Homo sapiens: one gene and its partners. The protein of the gene in region 2 interacts with the protein of the main gene of each other region in a pairwise test. Each region holds a gene or a part of one and is shown on either strand. Other genes may lie near its edges.

The links.
Region 1: the proteins of KRTAP17-1 (region 2) and VASN interact in binary tests that used the Homo sapiens proteins (3 or more experiments, as listed by UniProt).
Region 3: the proteins of KRTAP17-1 (region 2) and DOCK2 interact in binary tests that used the Homo sapiens proteins (3 or more experiments, as listed by UniProt).
Region 4: the proteins of KRTAP17-1 (region 2) and ZNF578 interact in binary tests that used the Homo sapiens proteins (3 or more experiments, as listed by UniProt).

What each region holds. Positions count from the first base shown.
Region 1 is NC_000016.10:4,367,860-4,374,849, reverse strand, and holds the start of VASN (vasorin precursor), read right to left. Parts: upstream 3,003-6,990; 5' UTR 2,857-3,002; intron 1-2,856. UniProt on the Homo sapiens protein: May act as an inhibitor of TGF-beta signaling.
Region 2 is NC_000017.11:41,314,402-41,320,171, reverse strand, and holds KRTAP17-1 (keratin-associated protein 17-1), read left to right. Parts: upstream 1-4,461; 5' UTR 4,462-4,521; coding exon 4,522-4,839; 3' UTR 4,840-5,260; downstream 5,261-5,770. UniProt on the Homo sapiens protein: In the hair cortex, hair keratin intermediate filaments are embedded in an interfilamentous matrix, consisting of hair keratin-associated proteins (KRTAP), which are essential for the formation of a rigid and resistant hair shaft through their extensive disulfide bond cross-linking with abundant cysteine residues of hair keratins.
Region 3 is NC_000005.10:169,640,275-169,647,304, reverse strand, and holds part of DOCK2 (dedicator of cytokinesis protein 2), read right to left. Parts: intron 1-7,030. UniProt on the Homo sapiens protein: Involved in cytoskeletal rearrangements required for lymphocyte migration in response of chemokines. Activates RAC1 and RAC2, but not CDC42, by functioning as a guanine nucleotide exchange factor (GEF), which exchanges bound GDP for free GTP.
Region 4 is NC_000019.10:52,456,527-52,463,556, reverse strand, and holds part of ZNF578 (zinc finger protein 578), read right to left. Parts: intron 6,881-7,030; exon of another isoform or gene 6,821-6,880; intron 6,690-6,820; 5' UTR 6,599-6,689; intron 1-6,598. UniProt on the Homo sapiens protein: May be involved in transcriptional regulation.

The DNA of each region.
Region 1 (6,990 bases), on a different chromosome or scaffold from region 2:
AGCCCTAAGCTTCCTGGGCCTGGGGGTCTGAGAAGGAAGTGGCCCTGGAAGGGGTCTTGCCCTTCTCAAGCTCCCCATGCCGAACCCCCCACAATCACCCAGGGTTCTTGGCCAACCCGTGGCAGAAATGGCGCCCCTGGGGTCTGTGAGCTGATCAATGGGCAGGCGGGATGGATTCAGGGAGGCAGAACAGGACCTGGCCACTGAACCACAACCCTGCCCCCGCACTGCTCTCAATGCCCAGCCGGGCTCGGGGCCCAGGGCCAGCAGGGGCCCCAGCGGCCGCCCCAGCCCCTTCCCGGTGTAGGCCGGCTCCCTCCTCCCTCCTTAATTAAATCTCTCAGGCAGCCCCTGAGGAATGTCAGAACCTTATTGCATTCCCCACGAAGAGTCTGGTGGGGGCCGTCCCGAACCCTGAAGAATAACTGGCCCCTCGCCTGCCCCCACCCCCTGCCCAAAACCGAGGTGGCCTGAGGGAGCCTCCTCCAGCCTCCTCACACCCAGGGAGGCTGGAATGAGGAAAAGCGGGGGAGGCCGGCGGCCCAGCGCGGAGGGAAAGCGATCCGGCTGACTCTGGAATGTGGAAACCGATAAAAGGAAGGAGGCTGAGGCCCTGCCCCTCCTGGTGCAAGCAGGCTCCCCCAAACACCCCCACCCACCCCCAAATACACAGCCCTGCTCCAGTCACGCGCACACAGACACGCCCACGCCAGACACACGCCCACTGGGCAGTGCTCCTGCAGACACACACACACACACACACGTGCACCCTCCCCCTTCTCCAAGAACTCACGCAAATTCCACAGCAGTGAGGGGAGCTGGTTTTCTTGGCAGCACAGAGCCTTGGGCTCCCCAGCCCAGGGAGGGGACTCTAAGGGCAGCTGATGGGGGGTCCAGGAGAGGTCACTAACAGAGTTAGGTGGCCTTGCTGCCCTCCCATGAGCTCAGGGCTGGCCAGTGGTCAGGGATAGCCATCCCTGTGGGCAGCCTCCCCTCTACACACCTCTGCTCACTGGCAGGACTGGCTGTCTGGCCTGCTGAGGTGGGAGCTCCCTCCTGGGCTCAGCAGGGCCCTGCTTTCTTGTTCCCAGAGGCTGCCCAGTGTTGTGTTGGGACCCACTTATAAGCCCAGGCAAGGACTTAATTTTCTGTACTTGGGACTTGTCCCAGCTCCCCCGGGGCTGTCAGTGGGGGTGACAGTAATGGGAGCTAGGAGCCGCGGACCCATCTCCTGCCCGGGGCATCTCCCTTGCCATCTCCCTGGCCCCTGGGCTGCGTGCCAGAGGGGCCTTCCTCGGGTAAGCACAGGTCTGGGCAGTGTCTGAGAGGCTCCTTATGCTGAATCCCATTCTCCCATTCCCAGAATATGGAGAGAGAGGTGCCATCTGGACAAATGCCCTGGGACCCCAGCCCCCAGCCCCATCCCCATCTGACCCTCCGGACCCACAGGTAGCAGGACAGCTGTTCCAACGTGCAGGAGACAGGGGCGGGGTGGGGACAGGCAGTGCCCGGCCCCCAGGCTGGCATGTGTGTGCGCATCCTCCCTCCCCAGGCCCAGGGGAGGCTAGATAATGGTCTGGAGGGGATCCAGCTGGGCTGCTCATCACCAGAGCCTCTTCCTGCCTCTGACACTCTGTTTACAGAAGCTCCAGGCCAACTCCCCTGGGAGAAGAGAGTAAACTCAGGGGACTGCTCCCCATCCCCCACCCGCCTGCCCCAGCTCTGTTGGGTTTTTGTCAATAGCTGGGCCCATCCTGGACTTTGCTGCCCCCTGGACTGGCCCTAATGGACCCTGCTTGGAAGGTCCCAGCCCGGCCACCCCTCTATGCCCTCAACACCCAAAGTACAGTCTAGTGTGAAGGGACCTTGGAGATTTTATCCAATCCCCAGCCCTGGAGGCTCTCAGCCTGGGGAAGGGGGCTCTAGGTCCCGCTGCCTCTCTCCAGAGCCTCACCTGTCCTTGGTGCAAAAGGCAGGCATGGGGACACCTAGACCCCCAGGACCTCTTCCTTCCACCCTGCACACTCCACCCCTGGGCCACAGCAGGGGAGGCGGTCAGTGACCCTGGTGTGGCAATCGTTAACGAATGGGGGAGAGGCAGAATGGTTGGCACCAATCGGCTGGCCTGCCAGTGACCACAGGGGACCTCAGCAGTCCTCAGGCCCCAGCACTGCCAGCCCAGGGACACAAAGGACTAGGCTGGCTCCAGGCCACTGGGTTTGCAGCCCAAGCAAAGCCCCTTCCCTGGCAGAGGCAGAGACCCGGCACCCTGCCTGATACCCGAAGCTCTAAGGGCCCTGGCCAGTACAGGTCCATCCCCCACCTGGAGGGATGGGCATCGGACGCCCACCAGCCACTCCCCGCCCCTCCCTAGGGCTGCATATCTGTAGCCCCCAGCTGTGCTTTGAGTGACAAGGGTCCAGAGGACCCCGGGCAGCCCTTCTGCACAGCAGCACCTACTGCCGGACCCCAGGAGGGAAAAGTGACCCAAGCCTGTGGCTTGGCTATCCCCCTCAAAGGGGTTTGATTCATAAAACTGGTCATGCCGGAGGCCCAGCCGTGGGAGGAGGAAGCATGGGACGGGGTGTTTATTTTGTCTGCTTGCAGCCTCGCGGGCTCACCGCACACTCAGGCGCGCACCCTGGCCGGCCGCGGGGCTGTCGGCGCCCCAGGACGGCGGGGGAGGGAGCGTACAGGGCCTGCCCGCCGGGCGGCCCAGGTGACCGTGTGGGGCTGGGGCCGCGGTCCCGCCCGAGAGTGCGTGTGTGCGCGCGGCGGCGGTCCCCGCGCGTGTGCACAGCCTGGCCGTGGCGCCCCCTTCCCCGCCCGCAGCCCCCCAGCCCCACAGAAACTCACCGGGAGGCGGCGGCGGCGCAGGGAGCCGGGCGGGGCAGGCCGCGGCCTCAGTCTTTCCTGGCGGGTCGGGCCCGAGGGGGTCCTGGGTCCCGAAGCAACTGCGTTCGAGTCCGCGTCCACCCGCCCCGGGCTCGGGCTCCGGAGTCGGCTCGCTGGAGGCAGGTCGCGCCTTAAGAGTCCCGGGGGGCGGGCCCGCCGCGGCAGGGGCGGGGCCTCTCCCCATTGGCCGGGGCGGAGCCGCGTGGAGACACGCCCCTTCCCCACCGAGGGGCTCGTGGGCCGGGTTGCCCTGGCCCTCACCCTGCGGCCACCTGACCTGCGCGGGGAGACCTTGCCCGTCGTGGGTTTGCCGGATGACACTGGGCAGGTTTCTGCTTTTTGTGTAAAAAGCGAGAGACTATTTAGGAATCCTAAGCGTCACAGCCCAGATGCCTATGAGGCACCAGGCAGGTGACAAATGCCAGAAGTCCACCCCAGGGCCTCTGCGGCCCTGGAGAGGCAGGATGGCGGGAGTGGGGCTGGTAAGGGCTGAGTCCTCATGACCAGCCCGGGCCAGCTAGAGCTTTGGATTTTTGAAGAGAAACTGGAAATCCAGATTTTTAGGTGAAATCTCTCAATGTGTTATTGTTGGTAGCTAATCCCAATTTCAAAAAACTCCTGGCAGCCCACACAAAGCCCTTTCAAGAGCCTCCTAAGTATAAACTCCAATGCCAAATCTGAGCTCAGGGTCCTCTTAGCCACGACAGCCTTAAGAGTTGTGAGCAGCCCTGGACTCTCTTCCCCACCATATTATGAGATGAAGGGGCTGTGTCAGGGAGGGCAGTGGTGGTCTGCCCACGGCCCCACAGTTACTGGCAGCTTCAAGCCTGAGCTGTGGAGGCATAGGGGTGGTCACCGTCGGTGGGTGGGGCCTGGGCTGCAGTTGACAGTGGCCCTTGATTGGGCAGGAGGGGCGGGTGCCAGGGGCCGGACTAGTCCAGAAAAATCCCCTGCCTTGGAGGATTCCAGGAAAACACTCTGCCCTCCTCCCCCTCCGCGTTTGTGGTCAGTCATGCCTCAGAGCCTTTGGGGGCCCAGCTCAGCTCCTGACTTCCGGAGAGCCTTGGGACACCCACACCCCCTCCAGCCCGGCCTGTAGCCAAGGCCCTTGGCTGGGCTAGCTCTAGTCTTTGGGGGGCCTGAAGGCTTATCCCTGGGAGGCTGGGCCACACCAGCTGGAGGGTTTCCTAGTCTCTGGAGGACTCAGTTATCTCCAGAAGGCAGGATGGCCTCTGTGTCTAGCCGTCAAGGGCTAAGCAGGGCCTGGCTGGGACAGTCACCTTCTGGACCTCCCGTCCACAGGGCCCTCTCCCCACAGGGCCCCTTTCCAGGGCTGGCAGGGCTCCACAACCCATACGTTTCTCGGTCTACATGGATTAGGGCATGGCTTGCGGACCTCTGTTCCTGGGTTGGGGCTGGCCTTTGGGTGCATTTAGTGCAGGCTTTATGGGAGTTTTTACAACTTTGAAGGCACTGCTAACATTGAAAAATCAGGTGGTTTCATATTAAAATGGGGCTTCCCAGCTTGCATTGAACAGGAACTCTCAGCTGGGGCTGAGTGGCGGTTGCTCCCTCTGCCAAAATGTGGGCTCATGGGTCACCCCAGTCCCCACCACTCCCTGCTGCCTCCTGCCAAGCTGTCCACTCACTTGAGTTTCCTGCCCGGCCCCAGAACCATCTGAGTTTCCAATCAGTGCTGTGCAGCCTCTTGTCGGACTGTTTCCCTGCCTCTTCCCTTGGCCCTGTGTCCTCTGAAGCCCTCAGAAGCATCCACAGATGCCCAGGGTCAGGGGTAAAGAGGGCTCCAAGAGCCTCCAGCCTGGCTTTCCTCAAGGAACAGGACCTCCTGATGTCCTTGAAGCTTCTCACCTCTGTGGCAGGTTCTTGTAGACGGAGAGACCCCATCTGCCTGGTGTTCACCCCCTGCCCCAATCCTGTGCCCTGGCCTTACACAGGTCCCCACTTACCCAGAGGCTCAAGGGAAGCTTTTAGGAGACCCCTCTCAGTTTATCCAACATTGCCTTGTATGGTTTCAAGGTGCCACCCGCCTTTAGAACCTGGTTACCAGCAGTCTGCACACAGCGGGGGAGCTAGGGGCTGTGGGGGTGGAGGGGGGTCAAAGGATCCTAACTAACTCTCCAGCCTGGGTGATAGGGACAGATCCAAGGGACCCAGCCTGCTTTGAACTGGCGCAATGGCAGAATGTCTGGGTTGGTGGGAAGGGGCCTGAGCGGGAGGGATGGGCTGGAGGGGAGGACAGAGGAGGAGCCTTGCAGCTGCTCCTTGTAGCAAGCACACCCTTGGTGCTTCCCCTCGGTGCTAATCACAGGAGTCCTGGGAGAGCTGGCGGGGCTTATCCGGAGGCTGAAACTGCTCGTGCCTCCCAGTTGGTACTGAGGTTGTCTTCTAGCTCCTGGGACCTGGCTGAGGGGCGGGGGCAGATCTGGGCTTTAGACCTTCTATAACTTTATGCCTGGGACAGACCCCTGGACCTGGGTCAGGGTCAGAGCCCTTCCCAGTGGCAGGCCCAGATTCCAGCAGGAGAGGTGCCGGCAATACCTCTTACCACCTCTGGCCCTCTGCCTGGCTGGGGCTCATGTACCATGTTCCAGACCCAGACCCAGCTTGGCTCTCTTCACACAGCCTGGGGTCAGGCCCATGCCAACACTTGGCCAACCTTTGGGGCTGGGTGCCATGACCCCATTTCTTGGCCCGTGCCACGGCAGACAGGATGCCCCTGCCTGGCAGAGTTGTCCAGATGGCTCTGCCTGAGGCAAGGAAGACTGGCCTGACCTGTCAGAGGAGCCAGCCCTGCCCTCCCTGACTTCCTGCCCACTCGGCCTCAGCTCCTGAGTCAGTGGCTGGCTGGCTGGGACGATGGAACGGGGGTGAGGGAGGCTGAGCACCAGGCCTCCTCAGGCAGTTGGCTCAGCGCACAGGTGAGCCTCTGATGCCATGAGGTGGCCCCAGGCCTGTTTCCCACCTCTCATAAGGGCAGCAGAGGGGCCACAGGAGACCTGCCTATCCTACTTGCCCTCAGCTTCTGTCCTGGCACCTGTTTCCACTCCTCCCAGCCTGTGCCCCCAGCAGCCAGTGTGATCCCTACTCTGTGCCAGTCTGGTCCTATCCTCTTTCTATTTTTATTTTTTTGAGATAGGGTCTTGCTGTGTTACCCAGGCTGATGTGATTTTTTTTTTTTTTTTTTTTGAGATGGAGTCTCACTCTGTTGCCAAGGCTGGAATGCAGTGGTGCAATCTTGGCCCACTGCAACCTCCGCCTCCCGGGTTCAAGTGATTCTCCTGCCTCAGCCTCCTGAGTAGCTGGGATTCCAGGTGCACGCCACCATGCTCAGCTCATTTTTGCATTTTTAGTAGAGACGAGTTTTCACCATGTTGGCCAGGCTGGTCTCAAACTCCTGACCCAAAGTGATCGGCCTCCCAAAGTGCTGGGATTACAGATGTGAGCCACCATGCCCAGCTGGCGATGCGATCTTGACTCACTGCAGCCTCAAACTCCTGGGCTCAAGTGACCCTCCTGCCTCAGCCAGCCGAGTAGCTGGACCACAGGTGTGCACTACCACAGCAGGCTAATTTTTAATTTTATTTTTTGAGATGGAGTCTCACTCTGTCACCCAGGCTGGAATGCATTGGTGCCATCTCGGCTCACTGCAAACTCCACCTGCCGGGTTCAAGTGGTTCTCCTGCCTCAGCCTCCCAATTAGCTGGGATTACAGATGCACACCACCACACTTGGCCAATTTTTGTATTTTTAGTAGAGACAGGGTTTCATCATGTTGGCCTGGCTGGTCTCAAACTGCTGACCTCCAGTGATCCACCCACCTCGGCCTCCCAAAGTGCTGGGATTACAGGCGTGAGCCAGCATACCTCGCTAATTTTTTAATTTTTAATTTTTTGAAGAGCCATGGTCTCATGATGTTGCCCAGGCTGGTCACAGTGTTGACCTACTGGGCTCAAGTGATTCTCCCACCTCAGCCTCCCAAAGTGCTGGCTGGGATCACAGACATGAGTCACTAGGCCTGGCCTAGCCTCTTTTGCTTGAAACGCACCGTCACCTTTTCATTGCTCGTCCACTGGA
Region 2 (5,770 bases):
TCAATTTTTGTTTTTGTTGCATTTGTTTTTGAGAACTTAGTAATGCATTTTTTCCCAAGACTAGTGTTCAGAATGATGTTTCCTAGTTTTTCTTCTAGGATTCTTATAGTTTGAGGCCTTACATTTAAATCTTTAATCCATCTTGAGTTAATTTTTCTATATGGTGAAATACAGAGGTTGTTTAATTCTTCTGCATATGGCTAGCCAGTTATCCCAGCACCATTTATTGAATCGGGAGTCCTTTCCCCAATGCTTATTTTTGTTAACTTTGTCAAAGATCAGGTGGCTGTAGGTGAGCAGCTTTATTTCCGGATTCTCTATTCTGTTCCATTGTATATGTCTGTTTTTGTACCAGTACCATGCTGTTTTGGTTACTGTAGCTTTACACTATAGTTTGAAATTGGGTAACGTGATACCTTCCACTTTGTTCTTTCTGCTTAGGATTGCATTGGCTCTTTGGGATCTTTTCTGGTTCCATATGAAATTTAGAATAGTTTTTTCAAATTCTGTTAAAAATGATGTTGGTAGTTTGATAGTGTTGATTCTGGAGCCATGTTGCAACAGATACTGTATACTTACATCATTTTATATATATCTTGATATATCCCTGTCGTAAACTCTTAGAATATAAATTATTGGATCAATTAGTTTTTGCATTGGTAATTTTGATGGATATTGCCATAAAGGTTGTACCAATTTACACTCCCATCAGCAATGTGTGAGACTATCTGTCTCTTCACTCCTTATTACATAATGTGTTATCAAAATATATGACCTTGCAAATCTGGTAACAGATAGGATTTTGGAATTGTTTTAATCTGCTTTTCTGTTATTGTGAATGCAACTAAGCAATATTTCATATGCTCAAATGCTATTCATATTCCCTCTTCCATGAATTATCTTTTCATCTCCATTGTCAATTTTTCTACTCGGTTGCTGGTCTTTCTCTTTGATTGATGGAAATCCTTTGTTAAATAGAAAATGAAAGCAAGCTTTGTCTATGAGTTACTTGTATTGTTCCCAGGTTTTCATTTGCCTTTGACACTGTATTCAAATAATAATAATAATAAAATGTTTACATTATAAATTTCATACCTACACACTGCAAATTTCTAAAAAATACAAAAAAGAGAAGAAAATAAAAATCATTTATCATGCCACAATAAATACATTTACTGCTAATACTTTAGTTTTCCTTTTAGTGTTTTTTCAAATATCTGCATGTAAATATTTATATTAATGTAGATAAGTATCCATAAAGATATATACATATATAAATATATAATAACATATATTAGTTACAAATTTCAAAATTCATGTTCTAAGATATGTTAAAAATATATAACTTTATTTTCCTCTGAGACTGTTTAAACTTATTTCAAACCCTCATTCCACCTTATGGGGGAAAAAAATAAAAGTCAGTTCTATGTAAACACAGAAATCATTCAGGATTTCTCCCTCCCAACCTTCATCTGGAGGAGGTGTCTGAGCTTTGAGGGGTGTTATGTTTGAATCAAATGGAAATTTCATAGCCTTCAAGAGGCTGGCAACAGGTTCATGGTGGGAATTTGCTGAAATATACATGGTTCTCTCTTACTCTTGGCCCTATCATCCCTCTCATGGCATCAACCAAGATATTAGAGTTCTTTTAGTCCACAAAAGAACTACATCCTCTACGTCTACATCCTCTCATTACCCCATCCAGGCGGCTAGATGGACCTGGTCATCTGACCACCCACTCTCCTGCATTGCAAAAGTCTACTTTGAATTGTATAAGCTAAGCATTGACCTAAGTCATTCTCTCTGCATTTCTACAGTAATAACCCTACCCTGGGGGCAGTAAATATAAAAAGTCCCTACTGCTGCCCAATTTGTGTGGAAAGACCAACAGTGAAATAAATTGCAGAAGAAAAATAACACCACCATGAGGACTTCAAGTCCTCATCATGACATGTACATTTACACAATTGAAATCATAGTGTATAATTTGAGTTGCACACTGAATGTTGTACTTAATCTGAGTAAATGCTCATGAGTATATGAATTGTTAAATATAAAAGTATGATAATTTATATTTTCAAGTTGTTCAAACAACCAAGTGTTCAATATGTATACATTTATATTTACTCATTTAATCAAAACAGCTCTACGACACTGCTACTATTATTATCCTAATTTCTGTTTTATAGATGAAGAAATTCAGGTACACAGGGGTTAAGTAATTATGGGAGCAGCGAGGGGGTGGGTGAGAGGCAGGAGAACTGAATGGTGAGACATTGGAAGATGAGGAAGACTTTCTACTCTTTTGTACCTTTTATCCTGGGAATGCTTGACCTCTTATTAAAATAAATAAATATGTAAAAGGATGTGTCGGCCGGGTGCAGTGGCTCACGCCTGTAATCCCAGCACTTCGGGAGGCCGAGGCGGGCAGATCACTTGAGGTCAGGAGATCCAGACCAGCCTGTGCGACATGGCGAAACCCTGTCTCTACTAAAAATACAGCAATTAGCTGGGCTTGTTGGTGCGTGCCTGTAATCCCAGGTACTTGGGAGGCTAAGTCAGGAGCATCGTTTGAGCCCAGGAGGCGGAAGTTGCCATGAGCCAAGATCAAGCTACTGCGCTCCAGCCTGGGCAGCAGAGTGAGACTCCATCTCAAAAAAACAAACAAACAAACAAAAAAGGACACGTCTGCCATAGACATTGCTGTATTATACTCACTCAGAGGTGCCCATCTGTGGATGTGGTATGGTGGAAGAAACAGTGGACCAGGAGGGAGAACATCTGGGCCATGGGTCCAATCTACCACGGATGTGTCATCTCTGGGCCTTGGTATCATCTTCTGTAAAACACAAGTGCTTGGCAGTGATGGTCATGATAGGATTAGATTATATCAGTGTTTCCTAATGTAACCCAAGTTACCTGAGAAAGTTTAAAATATATAGCTTCTCAAGCTCTCATAAGCACACATTCTGATTTATCATAAGGACTGGAATACAGTTTGGGAATCTGTATTTTTCAAAAGGCCCCCTTTTAGGCAATTCTGATATAAAACCCTGGACCAGATGATGTTTCAGGGGTTCCTCCCAGCTCTAAAATTCCATATCCTGTGAAGTATTGAGTATCATATCAGATCCAAGTAACTCATTCATCATTTACCCTCCCGACTCCCACCCTGTCCTTAGTTCTTCTAGCCCTTCTTAGAGGCTGTCTTACTTCTAGCCCATCTTACAAAGAAAGGGAAATGAAAAGGGAAGGACTAGATCCCTTGATCCAGATCCTTACTCCCATCCCTCCTTCCATTCCCACCCCACCCCTATCTTCTGTCCTCTACCCCTACTAGATGTTGTATTCCAGCTCCAGGGCTGCCATGGGCACTCCAAGAGGAGAACAAGGTACCAAAGTCCAAGAAAGAGACAGAAATTTTGACCCATCTCAAAATTTACACATGGACCTGAACCATCTGTAGATTTTAGACTCCTTGCAAAGGCATTTTATTCCTTGGGATGACACTCTGGGTATTTTGTATTCTAATTTCTCCTTCTGCCAGATGGTCTATAAGGTTCGAACTCTTAAAAAAAGTGCGTTACATTCCCATTTTAATGTAGCATTTTGGATATTTACTGATCTCCTTCCTGCTTTCTTCTTTCTTTTCTTCTTTCCTTTCTTCCTCCCCTTCTCCTCTTCTTCCTCCTCCTGCATCTCTTCCTTCCCCGGTCAAGGAAAGGCCTGGGGCTGGAGTGGGGGTGGGTAGAGGGTTCTGATCTCAGTTCTTCCCACCTATTTAGAGAGAAGTGCGAATATTCAGCTCACCTTGCCGCCGAGACAGACCATGCCTTACCAGCTTCTTGCAGCTTTACGATGAGTCTCTCTCGGTTTCACAGGGCAGTTATTACTCATGACTGATGCTCACCGGCCAAGCCTAAACGTGTGGCACACTCCCCATACCACACACAGACACAAACATTTGCCTGGCTCACATGAACCGGGATGAGGATGCCATTTCCACCTGGGAGGAGCCACGTGACCAGGCGTTCTCAGTAGCCTCCACTGGTGTCAGGGGGAACAGAGCATTCGGCTGTTGCCGGTCTGCCTTTCCAGGACTAGCATCCATGGAAGATGGGGTCCATCGCCAACCTGCGAAGATGTGGAAGGCAAGCCCCTCATTCCAGAGCCAGAAGCTGTGGCCGGCTTCCCCTTCCCATCTCCAACCTGGGCTAATGACAGCTGGCAGATGCTTGGCCATGATGACAGGTCTTTTCGAAGATGTATTTTTACCCTCTGGATAAACAGCAGTTGGCAGGAGTGGGGCGTTTTTATGAGTTGAGGTACTCAGGACTGGAAAATAAACAGCCAGTTAATGAGCCGGTCTTATGGAAACTTGCATAAATAATAACAAAGAAAACATCCCGTCCCTCATGCCTGGGTGAGGGGATATAAAAGCTGCCATCCAGATGGCTGGCCACCGTCAGTCGTGGGGAACTCCGGCTGCGTTACCGACCTGCGAGCTGACGGGCCCGGACCATGGGGTGCTGCCCGGGGGACTGCTTCACCTGCTGCACCCAGGAGCAAAACTGCTGTGAAGAGTGCTGCTGTCAGCCGGGCTGCTGTGGCTGCTGCGGCTCCTGCTGTGGCTGTGGGGGCTCTGGCTGCGGGGGCTCTGGCTGCGGGGGCAGCTGCTGCGGATCGTCTTGCTGTGGATCTGGCTGCGGAGGCTGTGGAGGCTGCGGAGGCTGCGGGGGTGGCTGCTGTGGATCCAGTTGCTGTGGGTCCAGTTGCTGCGGCTCCGGGTGCTGTGGGCCTGTGTGCTGCCAGCCCACACCTATATGCGACACAAAATGAAGACCTTTCCCTCCACCACTGATGCAGTCCCACCGAAAGCCTCCATCTGCTCCAGGGGGACAGCCCCTCGTGTCCAGAACCTTCCATACCCCCAAGACAGTGTCTTGTCTTTCTGTGATTTGTAGAGGAGGGCTTGTTCTCCAACACCTTCTCTGGTATTTCAAGGCACCGAGAACAAGAGCCATACTCTGATGAAACATTAAAACTCGGTCACAACTAAGTGATCCCAAGCTCAAGGGTGAATCCCCAATACTTTACTTATTCACATGAAGTTCAATGTCTTGTACTATAAGACATCCTCTTCTTCAAGGTGTCTTTGGGACTGATCCTCCGCCCTGGCTTTCTGCAGCTTTGAGATGCAAAAAAGGTCCATCTTCTTTGTGAGCCTCTTAATAAATTTGAGCATGCTGGCATAACCTAATTAGTTCTCTTGCCTCTTCCTTGACCTCCCTGCTGAGGACTGGGTTAGAAAAATTCACTCTGGCATCTGCCTTAGGGTTTTTGAATTGTGGTTTTTGGATCACCTGCGTCGGAATCACCTGGGAGCTTGTTAAAACTGGAGACTCTGAGGCCCTCCCTAAGACATACAGAATCAGAATCCACCAAAGTGTGGCCTGGGAATCTGTGTTTTTAACAAGAACCTTAGATAATTCTTATGCACTGAAGTTTGAGAACCATAGATCTAGACGGAAGCTTCCGTGTGCTGCATGAGATTCACTTGAAAAGCTTTTAAAAATATAGATCATTGGGTTTTATCACTGGAGATTTTACCCGTTAGCTCTAGGGCCTAGAGTCCCTAGGGACCTGCATTTTTAAAAGCTCCTGGGTGAATGCTGATGCTGGCCACATTTAATGGTGATTGAGGGGCATGGCTTTCTTCTGCACTACAGCTCTCCTAGGATGGTTCTGCAGGAGGGCTTCAGGCTTGATC
Region 3 (7,030 bases), on a different chromosome or scaffold from region 2:
ATCCATCTAATCAACAACTATCCATCCACCTATGAATCCACCTCTTCATCCATCCAATCAGCAGCCGCTGAGCACCTGCTCTGTGCTGAAGAAGAACAACAGACATGGCCCTGCCATCATAGAGCTTGCATTCTACAGAGGTGCCCAGATCATTCAACATGAGGCTGCAAGGAAGTATGAAGGGGATGATGGCAGCTCTAGTAACATGAAGCAAAGGGGGCACTGCCCCCAACCTGTCCAATGGGGACATTAGTACTAATAATGGTGCTCTCTGCTGCCTCATACAGAAAGAGAGGTTATGACTGGACTGTAAGCTTCCCGAACTGTTTTATTCATCTCTGGGCCCAAACACCCAGCTAAGGACCATCACTCAGGACAGGCTTACTGAACTTAATTGATCTGAACAGACTGTAAGAATTGTTTTCCGACTCTTGACAAGCTCCTGGCTTCAAGAATTCAAACCTTAGGCAGAATGCTTTGGCTATACCTATTGTATTTGTTTACTAAATAGTTACAGAGTAAAATAAGCACATTTTGCCAGGGACCTTAACTGGCTTCCATGAATGAGTTTTGGCGACATTACAATGCAGAACTGCACATGTGCATATTTTAATGGGAAGAAGTGTGTTTCTAGCGGTCACAGGATTCTCAATGGGACCTATGCTACAATAATGATTAGTTTCTCTGACCTACCACGTTCCTGCTATTGCAGTGATGCTGAATGGACTCAAAGTTAACCCTCCATACAGCTCTGCCCTCCAACAATGTACCAGCTAGTGGGGAAGATGACATGCAGTTACCTAACTAAAAGACAAGGTGAAAAGGGGCAACTTCCATAAAATAGAGGGAATTTTCAGAGAGACCTCAAAGATCTATGCCTCAGTTTCCTCACCTGCAAAATGAAGACAGAAGTTATTTTTCTTAGGGTGTCTGTGAGGGCTAAACATGATGACACAAGGGCTTTGTAAATGTACCATGCTATGGGACTGGTACTCAAACAGATATATAGACCAATGGAACAGAACAGAGACCTCAGAAATAACACCACGCATCTACAACCACCTGATCTTCGACAAACCTGACAAAAAGAAGCAATGGAATAAGGATCTCCTATTTAATAAATGGTGCTGGGAAAACTGGCCAGCCATATGTGGAAAACTGAAACTGGACCCCTTCCTTATATCTTACACGAAAATTAACTCAAGATGGATTACAAACTTAAATGTAAAATCCCAAACCATAAAAACCCTAGAAGAGGCTGGGCGTGGTGGCTCATGCCTGTAATCCCAGCACTTTGGGAGGCTGAGATGGGCGGATCATGAGGTCAGGAGATCGAGACCTTCCTGGCTAACACGGTGAAACCCCGTCTCTACTAAAAATACAAAAAATTAGCCGGGCGTGGTGGTGGGCTCCTGTGTAGTCCCAGCTACTCGGGAGGCTGAGGCAGGAGAATGGCGTGAACCCAGGAGGTGGAGCTTGCAGTGAGCCGAGATTGCTCCGCTGCACTCCAGCCAGGGAGACAGAGTGAGACTCTGTCTCAAAAAAATAAATAAATAAAAATTTAAAACCCTAGAAGAAAACCTAGGCAATACCAATCAGGACATATGCATGGGCAAAGACTTCATGACAAAAACACCAAAAGCAATTGCAGCAAAAACCAAAATTAACAAATGGGATCTAATTAAACTGAAGAGTTTCTGCACAGCAAAAGAAACTATCATCAAAGTGAACAGGCAACCTACAGAATGGGAGAAAATTTTTGCAATCTACTCATCTGACAAAGGGCTAATATCCAGAATCTATAAGAAACTTAAACAAATTTACAAGAAACAAACAACCCCATCAAAATGTGGACAAAGGATATAAACAGACACTTCTAGAAAGAAGACATTTATGTGGCCAACAAACATGAAAAAACGCTCAACACCACTGATCATCTGAGAAATGCACAATGAGATACCATCTCATGCCAGTCAGAATGGCGATTACTAAAAAGTCAAGAAACTATAGATGCTGGTGAGGCTGTGGAGAAATAAGAATACTTTTACACTGTTGGTGGGAATGTAAATTAGTTCAACTATTGTGGAAAACAATTCCTCAAGGATCTAGAACGAGAAATACCATTTGGCCCAGCAATCCCATTACTAGGTATATACCCAAAGGAATAGAAATCATTCTACTATAAAGACATATGCACACGTATGTTTATCGCAGCACTATTTACAACAACAAACACTTGGAACCAACCCAAATGCCCATCAATGATAGATTGGATAAAGAAAATGTCAACATATATACCATGGAATACTATGCAGCCATAAAAAGAAATGAGATCATGTCCTTTGCAGGGACAGGGATAAAGCTGGAAGCCATCATTCTCAGCAAACTAACACAGGAACAGAAAACCAAACACTGCCTGTTCTCACTCATAAGTGGGAGTTGAACAATGAGAACATATGGCCACGGGGAGAGAAACATCACACACTGGGGCCTGTCAGGGGGTGGGGGAGTTGCAAGGAAGGGAGAGCATTAGGACAAATAGCTAATGCATATGGGGCTTAAAACCTAGATGACGGGAAGATAGGTGCAGCAAACCACCATGGCACATGTATACCTACGTAACAAACCTGCATGTTCTGCACTTGTATCCCAGAACTGTCAGTAAAATTAAAAAAAAAAAAAAAAGTACCGTGGTACAAAAGGTAAGGCAATGGCATGATTTATGCCAATGTCGATGACTACTTAGATCAAGGTTTTCACTAGGGAAGGCCTCGATGCAGCCCTCATTCTTCTAGCTATTCAGACCAGAAACCTCGGAGTCACCACTGGCTCCTCTCTCCTTCTCATACCCACATCCATTCCAAGAGGAAAACCCCATTTGCTTGACCTACAACACATACATCCCGAATCTAAGCATATCTCACTGTCTCCACTGCTCCCTCCTGCTGCAAGCCACCGCCATCTCTTGGCCTGAGTTATCACTGTTGCTGCCTAACTGGTCCCTCTCCTTCCACATTTAATTCCCCCTGATTAATGCACCATAAAACTGCTATGTTCAATCCTCTTAAAACTTAAGACAGGTCGTCCTACAATTCTACTCCAAATCCTGCAATGTCCCCCTCCCCCATTCAGAGTAAAAGCCAAGGACCTCACAATACCTACGAGGCACTGCTCCCTATGACCTCTCTCAGAGAATCCATTCCTTACTGCTTTGCATCTTGCTTACTCTACTGCAGCCACACTGGCCTCCCACACATCAGAGAGGCTTCCTCCTCTTTATATTGGCTATTCGTTCTACTTAGAAGGGTCCTTCCCTGACTGCCACCGCCAGGGAAGCCAGCAGCAAAAACCCACTTTCCAGGCAAACCCTCAAGGTTCAGCTGACACTGGGATGGCCCTGCTGCTGCAGCCCACCATGTCAGTCAGGGTGTCTCTAGGCCTGGCATTGCACCATTTAATTCAACCAAACAAATGCCTATTACCCCATTCAGACCCTGTGCCGTGACAGTGTGCACGTCATACTGTCCACCTATGTCTCCAACCATCATCTTAGCTTAGGCTGTGATCCAAGGGGCCGTGTGCAGTCAGGGGAACTGAGTGCCCTAGAACAGGGGTCCCCAACTCCCCAGGCCACCGACCGGTACTGGTTGGTGGCCTGTTAGGAACCGGGCTGCAGAGCAGGAGGTGAGCAGCAGGCAATCCAGCATTAGCCTGAGCTCTGCCTCCTGTCAGATCAGCAGGGGCATTCGATTCTCACAGGAGCAGGAACCCTATTGTGACCTGCACACGCGAGGGATCTGGGTTGTATGCTCCTTATGAGAATCTAATTAATGCCTCATGATCTGAAGTGGAACAGCTTCATCCCGAAACCATCCCTCCCGCCCCGCCCCACCTCCCCATCAGTCTGTGGAAAAATTGTCTTCCACCAAACCAGCCCTGGTGCTGAAAAGGTTGCAGACCACTGCCCTAGAGTGATGAACGGAGAGGGCTCTGGAAAGTGTCCACATTGGCGGTCATACTTTCTCCAGCCTCAGTTTCTGCCACCATGACTTTAAACCAAAGCAGAAGCTGACCTGGTGGGGTGCAGGGAGACAAGGAATGACTTTCTCCAAGGAGAACTAACAACAGAATAAGACTTAAGCAGCTCACAAACTCAGCCTGACTGTTTTTCAATTCACACCAATTAAGGGAAGGGGGAAGAAAGGAGAAAGTGCCTATTAAAGGGAACATTTGTGGTGTCTCCGCCCAGACTCCTCTGGAGTTGCGTGGTGATAAGCACTGTCATTCCCCATTTGCAGAACATATGCTGCAGAGCACAGACTGTGGCACCCATGTGTAATTGACTATTGAAAAAAAAAACAAATCCAAAGGTCCAGAAATTAGCGGAGCAGTATGGTGACTACATTTCATCTCTCAAAAGACAGCAGCAATAGGATGCTGATCTCAGGAGGAAGCAGAGCTTAGAAAACACAATCTGTCTTCAAGGCTCATTCAAATGCAAACATTATGGTCAGGGGCAAGATGTCCACTGCCTAATGAGGTGCCCATATAACTACGGATTAGGACAATCTCCTTACATGAACTCAAACAGCCAGCCCAGCAGGCACTCCTAAACAGACCCAAATTGCTGAAGCATCTGAAAGTAGGAAGCCCCGGCACCTAAGAATTGGTGGCAGGAAGGAATTAGATGTCTAATCCATGTATTTTTGTTTCACCAGACTAATTTCTGGGGACCAATCCAAAGGTACAGTCAGCCACTGTAGCAAAGATGCATGTATTAATATCCCTCCAAGCATTGGCTTTGGGATTCTTTTCCCCATTGCTCCTGAGAGGCCTTCTCACATCATCTAATTCAAGACCATTCCTAATATTCTCACTCATATTAAAACAGCACATATCACAATTTGTAATTATATGGTTACTGATTTATTCATGAAATTCTTTTTCATCTTCCCTATTAGACTACAGGCTCCAGAAGGATAGGGGCCATATTGGCCTAATTCTAGTAATCTCAGTGACTAGCATAATGCCTGGCACACACACCCAACAAATATTTAAGAAGTTAATGAAGAATGAATGAGTGAACAAATGGACAAGTTAATGAGTGAGTGATGCTCTCTATCCTTTCAACTGTTGCATTTGGCAATAAAAGCAGTATAATTGGTCCCTCTGTAGTGAAGTTCTGCTCCTGGGTATGTTTGGGATGCAGTTTCCACTCATGCTTCCAACTCAAAGAATCAGTCCCCACCCATGGCTCCTGCTAGAGGAGTAGCAAGCCATGTGACCCCACCTCATAGTCACAGAGAATTAGACCTGCCAGGGGCAGCACCCTCACCAGAGTGAGGCCCATTATTAGGCTGGCAATGAACTCTGACTTGGGTTGTCTTTCTTACAAAGGGAAATCAAGCTACCACTCTCTTCTGTTGGGACTTTGAACAAATAAACACAGAGAAGATTCAGTGGATGCTTGAACTGCAAGGTTGTGCAGAGATGGGTGGGTTGCATGCTGGGGCCACCACTGTGGTATTAGAGTATCAGTTACGAAGGAACAATGCAATCAGAGGGAGGTGGTGGGGAGAGAAAGGAGACCACAGTTGGCATGCTCAGAGAAGCTGAGAAGCCATGAGAGGAGAGGCAGAGGTTTCCAGGGTTGCCTCAGTTCAAGCCCTTTCCGAGGCCTGGCTCCTCCTGTTTCCTGGATTTCCATGTGATTCCTCTGACCCTAAAATACACCACTTCTCCCTGCTCTCCCACAGATACACACCACACACATTTTCGTTGAACTGGTTTGACTAGATTTTGTTCCCTTCAACAAAAATCCATGTGCAAATGACACCAGCACACATTGCCCACGCCAAATCTGTCAGTGTGCATGGATCAGCTCTGTCCAGGGTCCTGGGCTGCGACAGCATCACCCACATCCCTGAACCACGAGCTGGTTATGGATTCCTCCATATTCCCCAACCAAGCTGTGAAAAAGATCCCTTCTCTGCTTCTGCAGAGCCTGTTATGGTTTGAATTGTGCCCTCCCCCTCCAAAAAAAGAGACGTTGGAGTCTCAACTCCCAGTACCTCAGAATGTGATCTTATTTGGAGACAGTCTTTACAGAGGTAATCACATTTAACTGAAGTCACTAGGGTGGGCCCTAATCTAATATGACTGGATGTCCTTTTTAAAAGGAGAAATGCGGAGACAGACACGCACACAATGAGAATACCACGTGAAGTTGGAGGCAGCGATCAAGGCAACGCTTTTGTAAGCCAAGGAATGCCGAGGATTGCCAGCAAACCACTGGCAGCTGGGGGAGACACCTGGAACAGATTTTCCCTCAGCCCTCAGAAGAAACCAACAAATATTCCTCAACACCACACATGGGTGTAAAACCATAGCTAGAGAGAAGCTGCATACAGAACAGGTTTCTGATCAAAATATGCCACTTCCATAGGGCATATTGATTATTTTGAGCTGGATGCAAATAAGAATCAACAGGTACAGCAAGAAGCTTTCCTGGATATTTATCTGAAGAAACTCCTAAGAAATAAGGACTGTCATAAATCCCCTCTCCCAGGGAAGTTTTATGGCAATGAAGAAGACAGAAAGTTGGCTCCAAGATGAACCTGCACAAATAACCCTTTATCTTCCATTAGATTCCCCATATATTTCCCTTCCCACAGTTTGCTGCCCTTGGAGGCCTAAAACCCTCCTTTGACTTGCTACTTCTCTAAACCTTTATTGTACCTTTGCTAAGATGCTGTATAAGCTCAAGTTCAAACCAACCCTTTGAGTACTCCATATGTAAGCAGGATGTACATGCTAATAAACTTGTTTGTTTTCTCTTGTTCATCAGTCTTTTGTTAGTCTAATTTACAGAAAACCCAAGATGCAGTAGCAGAAAGAAGCTTTTCCCTCCCCTACAAGAATAACTAGAGTCCCACACAAATCTGCCTGGCAGGCTCAGCTTCAGGGTAAACAAAACTCTTTTCTACCCTCACCCTTTATCTCAGGACTCCTGCCTTGAAGCCCTCTTTAT
Region 4 (7,030 bases), on a different chromosome or scaffold from region 2:
GTCCTAGCACATACCAATCTTCCAGGACCCTTGACTAAGGCTAATCAGCAAGCTGACTTGTTGGTTTCCCCCTCACTGACTGATGCCCCAAATTTTGACTTACCTCAGTGCCAGGCAATTACCACATCAAAGAACTGGTGTTAAGCCTCAAAGGTTGGCACCTGACAAGATCTGGCAAATGGACATCACCCACGTTCCTACATTTGGCAAACTTTCTTATGTCCATGTAACCAGAGATACATATTCTCATTTTATATGGGCTACTTGCCAAACTGGTGAGACTGCAGCACATATAAAAAGACGTTTGGTTTCCTGTTTTGCTGTCATGGGAATTCCAAAAAAATTAAAAACAGACAATGGACAGGCTACTGTAGTGGAGCATTAAACACAGTACAAGTATCCCCTATAATTCTCAAGGGCAAGTGATTGTTGAGCGAGCCAATCGAACCTTAAAAATGCAATTACATAAACAGGAGATAGGGGGAGATAGGGAATATTCCACCCCTCATATGCAATTACAATTGGCTCTTGTTACCTTAAATTTTTTGAACATCTCCCAGGATCAGGTTACTACAGCAGCTGAGCAGCATTTAACAAGACAGAAGATAAATGTTCATGAAGGAAAACCTGTGTGGTGGAAGGACTTTAAAACAAAGACCTGGGAAAGAGGGAGAGTTATAACATGGGGAAGAGGGTTTGCTTGTATTTCCCCAGGAGAAAACCAGCTTCCAGTTTGGGTACCTACAAAACATCTTAAACTCTACCATGAGCAAAATTCCAAAGAAAAGGATTTTGGAACCAAGATCTCAACCCCCAAGCACACCTTGATGGCTCAAATGAACATTTCAGCTGACCACATGAAGACAAACAAAACCCGTCAAGTGAGCCCACTGACTTGGGACACATCAAGAGGCTGACCCAGCTTGCAGAAGAAAACCTGAAGGCACAACAAAAACCACTAAACTCGAGTAACCTCATCGTGGCTATGATTGCGGTAATTGCTATGACGGTAAGTCTCCCTGTGACTACAGCAGACCAAAATTATACCTATTGGGCATATGTCCCATTCCTGCCTTTAATTAGGTCTGTCACTTTGTTGGAACCCCCAGTTGAGGTTTATGTTAATAATAGTGTTTGGATGCCTGAGCCTACAGATACTCATGGGCCCTCTCACCCAGAGGAGGAAGGAATGTTAATAAATGTGTCCATGGGTTATCAGTCCCCCCTCTTTACATAGGGCCAGCTATCGGTTGCCTAAAAGGCTATCAACAACATTGGCTAGTTAAGACTTCAGGTCATAATCAAAGACCAGTATCCTATCATTTACTTTCTGGATGGAGCCTGGCTCATTCACAGAGTTCGGTCCAACTGGAACAATTTAAGACCAGAAAAGAGAGGTGTCAACAATCTCAACAATGGTCAAAGGATTTAGAAATATTGATTTGGAAAGATTGCATTGCTGATCATGGTGTGCTACTGCAAAATAATTCCTATGGAATCATCATTGATTGGTCCCCTAAGAGGACTTTTGCAGTTAATTGTACCAATCAGAATGATAGATGAAAGACAAAACTAAAACAGGATCTATACTATCAAAGAGATGACACTACTTACACTGAAAAGTGTGCTCATTTTCCCATAATTTGGACCAATTTTGGTACAGCCGGACCACATCCAAAAATAATTAATCCAATAATAGGCCCTGAACACCCTGAACTATGGAAGTTAATGATGGCCCAATCTCATATTCGAGTTTGGAAGGAAAATACTATCTTGATGGAGAAGGTGAGACACTTCAATTTGTGTATCAGTTTTCTTCCAACAGAACAGTATCCATTCAGAGTTGTGTCAAGCCTCCTTTCATGTTGATGGTCAGAAATATTCATATATGACCTAATTCTAAAATTATTAAATGTCAAAACTGTTGCCTTTTCACCCGTATTGATTCCACGTTTTGTGTGAAAACATCTGTGTTGCTGGTAAGGGCCAGAGAAGGAGTTTGGATACCAGTTTCCCTCAATAGACCATGGGAAGCCTCTCCTTACATTCATATCATCACAGAAATGTTAAGGGGAGTGCTGCTGGAATTGCTTTACATTCCTCTGTTCAAACTGCAGAATATGTAAATAATTGGCAAAATAATTCCTCAAAATTGTGGAATTCTCAGACTCAAACAGACCAAAGAAAATTGGCAAATCAATGATCTTAGACAGACTGTTAATATGGATGGGAGATTGTATAATGAGCTTAGAGCATCTATTGCAAATGTAATGTGATTGGAAATACTTCTGATTTCTGCGTAAATCCCCATTCACATAATGCTACTGAACATCATTGGGAAAAAGTTAGACATCATCTGGAAGGAAGGGATGGAAATTTAACATTGGATATAGCCAAATGAAAGGAACACATTTTTGAAGCATCTCAGGCGCATTTCACTCTCCTGCCTGGAATTGACATCCTAGCTGGAGCTGCTGATGGACTTTCAAATGTGAATCCTCTTAAATGGACCGTTGGAGGATCAACTATTGCAAATTTTACTTTAATGTGTATCGGTTTATGCTGTTTGCTTTTAGTCTGCAGATGGGGAAGATGCCTCTGGAGAGAGACCAGACACCATGAACAAGCCATGATAGCAACGGTGGTTTTAAAAAAGAAAAAATGGGTGGTGTTGAGGCTGGTCCCCAACAAAAACTATATCACTACTATTAATATAATTCAGAACAAAAACAATGCCATCATCTCAATTGATGCAAAAAAAGCATTAGGAACAATTCAACACCATTTCCAGATTAATACACGTAACAAACTAGGATAGAAGAAAACCTTACGACACTGATTTTGGAAAGGATTTACTGGATATAATACCAAAAGCACACGCAAGAAAAGCAAAACACTAAAGGATCTACATCCAACTTAAAGTTTTTGCACTTCAAAGGAATCGATCAAAAGAAGGAAAAGGCAAACCTACGGAATGGGAGAAGAGTTGCAAATCACATATCTGATAGGCATTAATAGATTATCAAGTAACTTCTACAACTCAACACCAAAAATAAATAACCCAATTAATGAATGGGCAAAGGAACTGAACAGATGTTATTCTAAAGAAGATGACAATATGGCCAACAAGCACATGATAAGATGCTCATCACCACCAAACATAACACAAATGCCAATCAACATTACAATGAGGTATCACCTCACACCCATTAGGATGGCCATCATCAATAAAAAAAAAAAAAGTGTTGGAGAGGATGCTGAGAAACTGGAACATTTGTGGACAGTTGGTGAGAATGTAAAATGGTATACCCATTACTGAGGTCAGTAAGGGGGTTCCTCAAAATATTAAAAACAGTACTACCATATAATCCAGCAATCCCACTTCTGGGCATGGGTGTGTGTAGATATTTTATACATCTATATACATACACACACGTATATATATTTGTGTGTGTATATACACACACACGTACATATTTGAAAATATACATCTGGCCAGGCACGGTGGCTATGCCTGTAATCCCAGCACTTTGGGAAGCTGAGGTGGGTGGATCACGAGGTCAACAGATTGAGACCATCCTGGCCAACATGGTGAAACCCCGTCTCTAATAAAAATACAAAATTAGCTGGGCATGGTGGCACGCACCTGTAGTACTTGGAAGGCTGAGGCAGGAGAATCACTTGAACCTAGGAGGCAGAGGTTGCAGTGAGCCAAGATCGCACCACTGCACTCCAGCCTGGTGACAGAGTAAGACTCCATCTCAAAAAAAAAAAAAAAAAAAAAAAATATATATATATATATATACACACACACACACACACACACACACACACACACACACATATCTACATATACACACTCATACCCAGAAGTGAGACTGCTGGATCATATGGTAGTATATATATGTGTGTGTGTGTGTGTGTGTGTGTGTGTGTGTGTGTGTACATACACATTAAAGACTTGAAAGCAGGCCCTCAAAGAGATATTTGCAAATCCCTGCTCATCACAGCATTATATACAATAGCCAAGAAGACAGAAAAACCAACATGCCTATCTACAGATGAATGGATAAAGAAAATGTGTTATACACATGCAATGGAATATTATTCAGCTTTATAAAAGGAGAAAATCCTGTCATATGCTACAACACGGATGAACCTTGAGGACATTACACTAGGGAAAATAAGACAGTCACAAAAGGACAAATACTATGTGATTCCACTCACGTGGGATACTAAAGTAGTCAAATGCATATAAACAACATAGAAAGATGGGTTGACAGAGGCTATAGTGAGGTCAGAAGGGATATAGTGTATTCTGGGTATACAGTTTCAGTTTTGCGAGATGAAAAACTTCTAGATATGTTGCACAGTAACGTGAACATACTTAACATTACTGAACTATAAACAGGCAAATAAACTTTACTAAAAGACATAACAAAGAGCATCATGGACCGGAAAACCCAATTCTTATTAGCAGATGTGGTGACACAAAGACCTCTCTGACTAGGAATCCACAGCCATTCAAACACAAAAGAAATATATGAGTTTTTAATGACTGTGCCCTGTGAAAGGAGAACCATCACAATTTTGAAAAGAAAAACAAAATGGAGGGGTTTTCCAAATATGTAAGAACCTCTTATGACAAACATCTGTAATTTTACAACAAATCAAATACTTATGATATACGCAAAAATTCAAATTAAACACAAATGTAAACAAAATTTTAAACAACAAAACTTTATTCCTAAATGAAACTTAGTACTTCATAATCATGCAAGGCCTTCCAAATCAAGATGAAACAAACAAAGGCACAACAAAAATCAGAAGGTATAAATGAAAGATTTGTCTTACAATTAAAAAATGTATAACCTGAAATAAAAGACATCAGGGCATATGAAAGAAATAAAAACCACAGAAATTAAAACACATACTAAAATACATGGAAAGAAAATTGAGCAAAGCATGAAAATTCATTTTGTATATACATGTCCCCAAAATAATAAAACCTATGTAGACAATAAATTGAAAAATGAAAATACAGAGGGTTGTCATTTTTCCCAGATTTTCAAAATATATATATATATAAACATAGTAGCAAGTTGTTGTTTTTTTTTTAATGAGGGCAAAATTTCACATGTTCTTGATAGGAGAGGTACCCCTGCAGCTGGGGATAACAGGGGAACCTTGAGAGATCTAAGAAAATAGGAAATGCCCCATCCTAGAAGAAGTATTACCCAAGTCTTACCATTTTCACCTGAAACATCTGTTTCACAAGAGTCTCTGCAGGAATACCACAATCTCCATAGGATGGATGTACTTAGAATGGTTTAAAGAATCTCTTGCTGTTAAACATTTACTACAAATGGAGTATAAAATCAGGCAGAAAAGATTTCCTCTTCCTAATCTCTTCTTCCAAATTTTATCAGGCAGTTGTGCACATTAAGACTTCCACGAGCAGCTTCCATAATCCAGTCTACAGAGCTGGCAGTGCCTCCAGACCTGGCCCTTAAACAATCCTTCAATTCCTGCTGCCCAAGAGCAGTGACACCATGGGGCCCACACCCCGTCTCCATCCATGTCTGGGTATAAGCCCTTCCCAATGGAGCCTCTTCACAAATTCCACAGCACCAGTCACTGTGAGATGGAATTTAAGTGACATCAGAGGGCCTGAGGGAAGACATGGGTGAGTGTGAGCAAACATCACAGGCAGCATGCTTCAGACTCAGAGAAGACTGACATCTCCAATGCCTGATGTGTACAGGGAAAAGCTCTCCTCAAATTGTGCTTTTCCTCTACTCTCACACCACAACAATCATCAACATAGAAGACCTCTGTGACTAAATGTATGTGGGTACTTTCCCCACACACCAAGCAGCAGACACTAGCTGGGTATCTTCCAGTTTAATTCCAACACTATCTACTGTGTACATTAAGACTGGAGACGTCAGATCCCACGAGTTGATGGCTCAGTCTCCAAGATTGCCTCCATACACACCAGTCGCAAGTCCAGGCCTTCAGAACTTATGACCACCCAGCTTCAAACTGGGGTTCACACGACCCCCTCTTCAATTAATTTGCTAGATTGGCTCACAGAACTCAGGGAAGCACTTACTTACCTTTACCAGTTTATTATAAAGGATACTGCAAAGGATACAGACGAAGAGGCACCTACAGCAAGGTATGGAGGAAGGAGTGCAGGGCTTCCATGACGCCCCTGGGCTTACTACCTCCAAGAACCTCCACGTGTTCAGCCATCCAGAAGCTCATCGAACTTTGCCCTTTTGGGTTTTTATGGAAGTTTCATGACATCAACATTCTTCCCCCCAGGGTACAGGGTGGGAAGCTCTCGGAGGAGGGTCTTAAGACCCACAATTAGAAAGGCTGGGGAGCATCAGAGTGAAAGGAAGGCAAAAGAAGGTCAGAGGCCTACCCCTGAGGCTTAACACATCCAACATTACAACAAAAGATTGTAACAAGGGCTATGGAGGTTATAAGCCAGGAACCGTCGATGGAAACCAATATATATCATAACACCACACATGGCATTTCAGAAAGGAAGGAGACACACAACAGTCCACTGAGAATATCACTGTACCTAAGAGGCATTCCTGACTCCTTTTCTTTCCTCTTCCTCCTCTTCTAGGCTTCTTCCTTAGGAGAGATGAAAGAGACTTTAGAAGCTAATCCTGAAAGAAAAAGAAAAAGAAAACTTTTTAAAAAACAAGTTAATCCTGAGTGTTCAAAATATGCTGTTTACTGCTCAAAATCAACACACCCCCTCCCTGTGCCACAACCACATACACAGGAAAGACCTCGCCCTGTGGAAAGATGGCCCTCTGCTGCCCACAGCACCAGGGATGATGCAGACAAGAAAGTCCTACAGGAAGAACAAGTCAGTTTTTGAGTTCTTCAAAGCTTACTCCCCACCTGGAGAAGCCCACATACATGCTGCAGCTGTGGGGTGCTGGGCTGGACTGAGCTCCCCTTCAGGGCACAGATCTGGCCCTGACCAAACCCCATGCAGAGC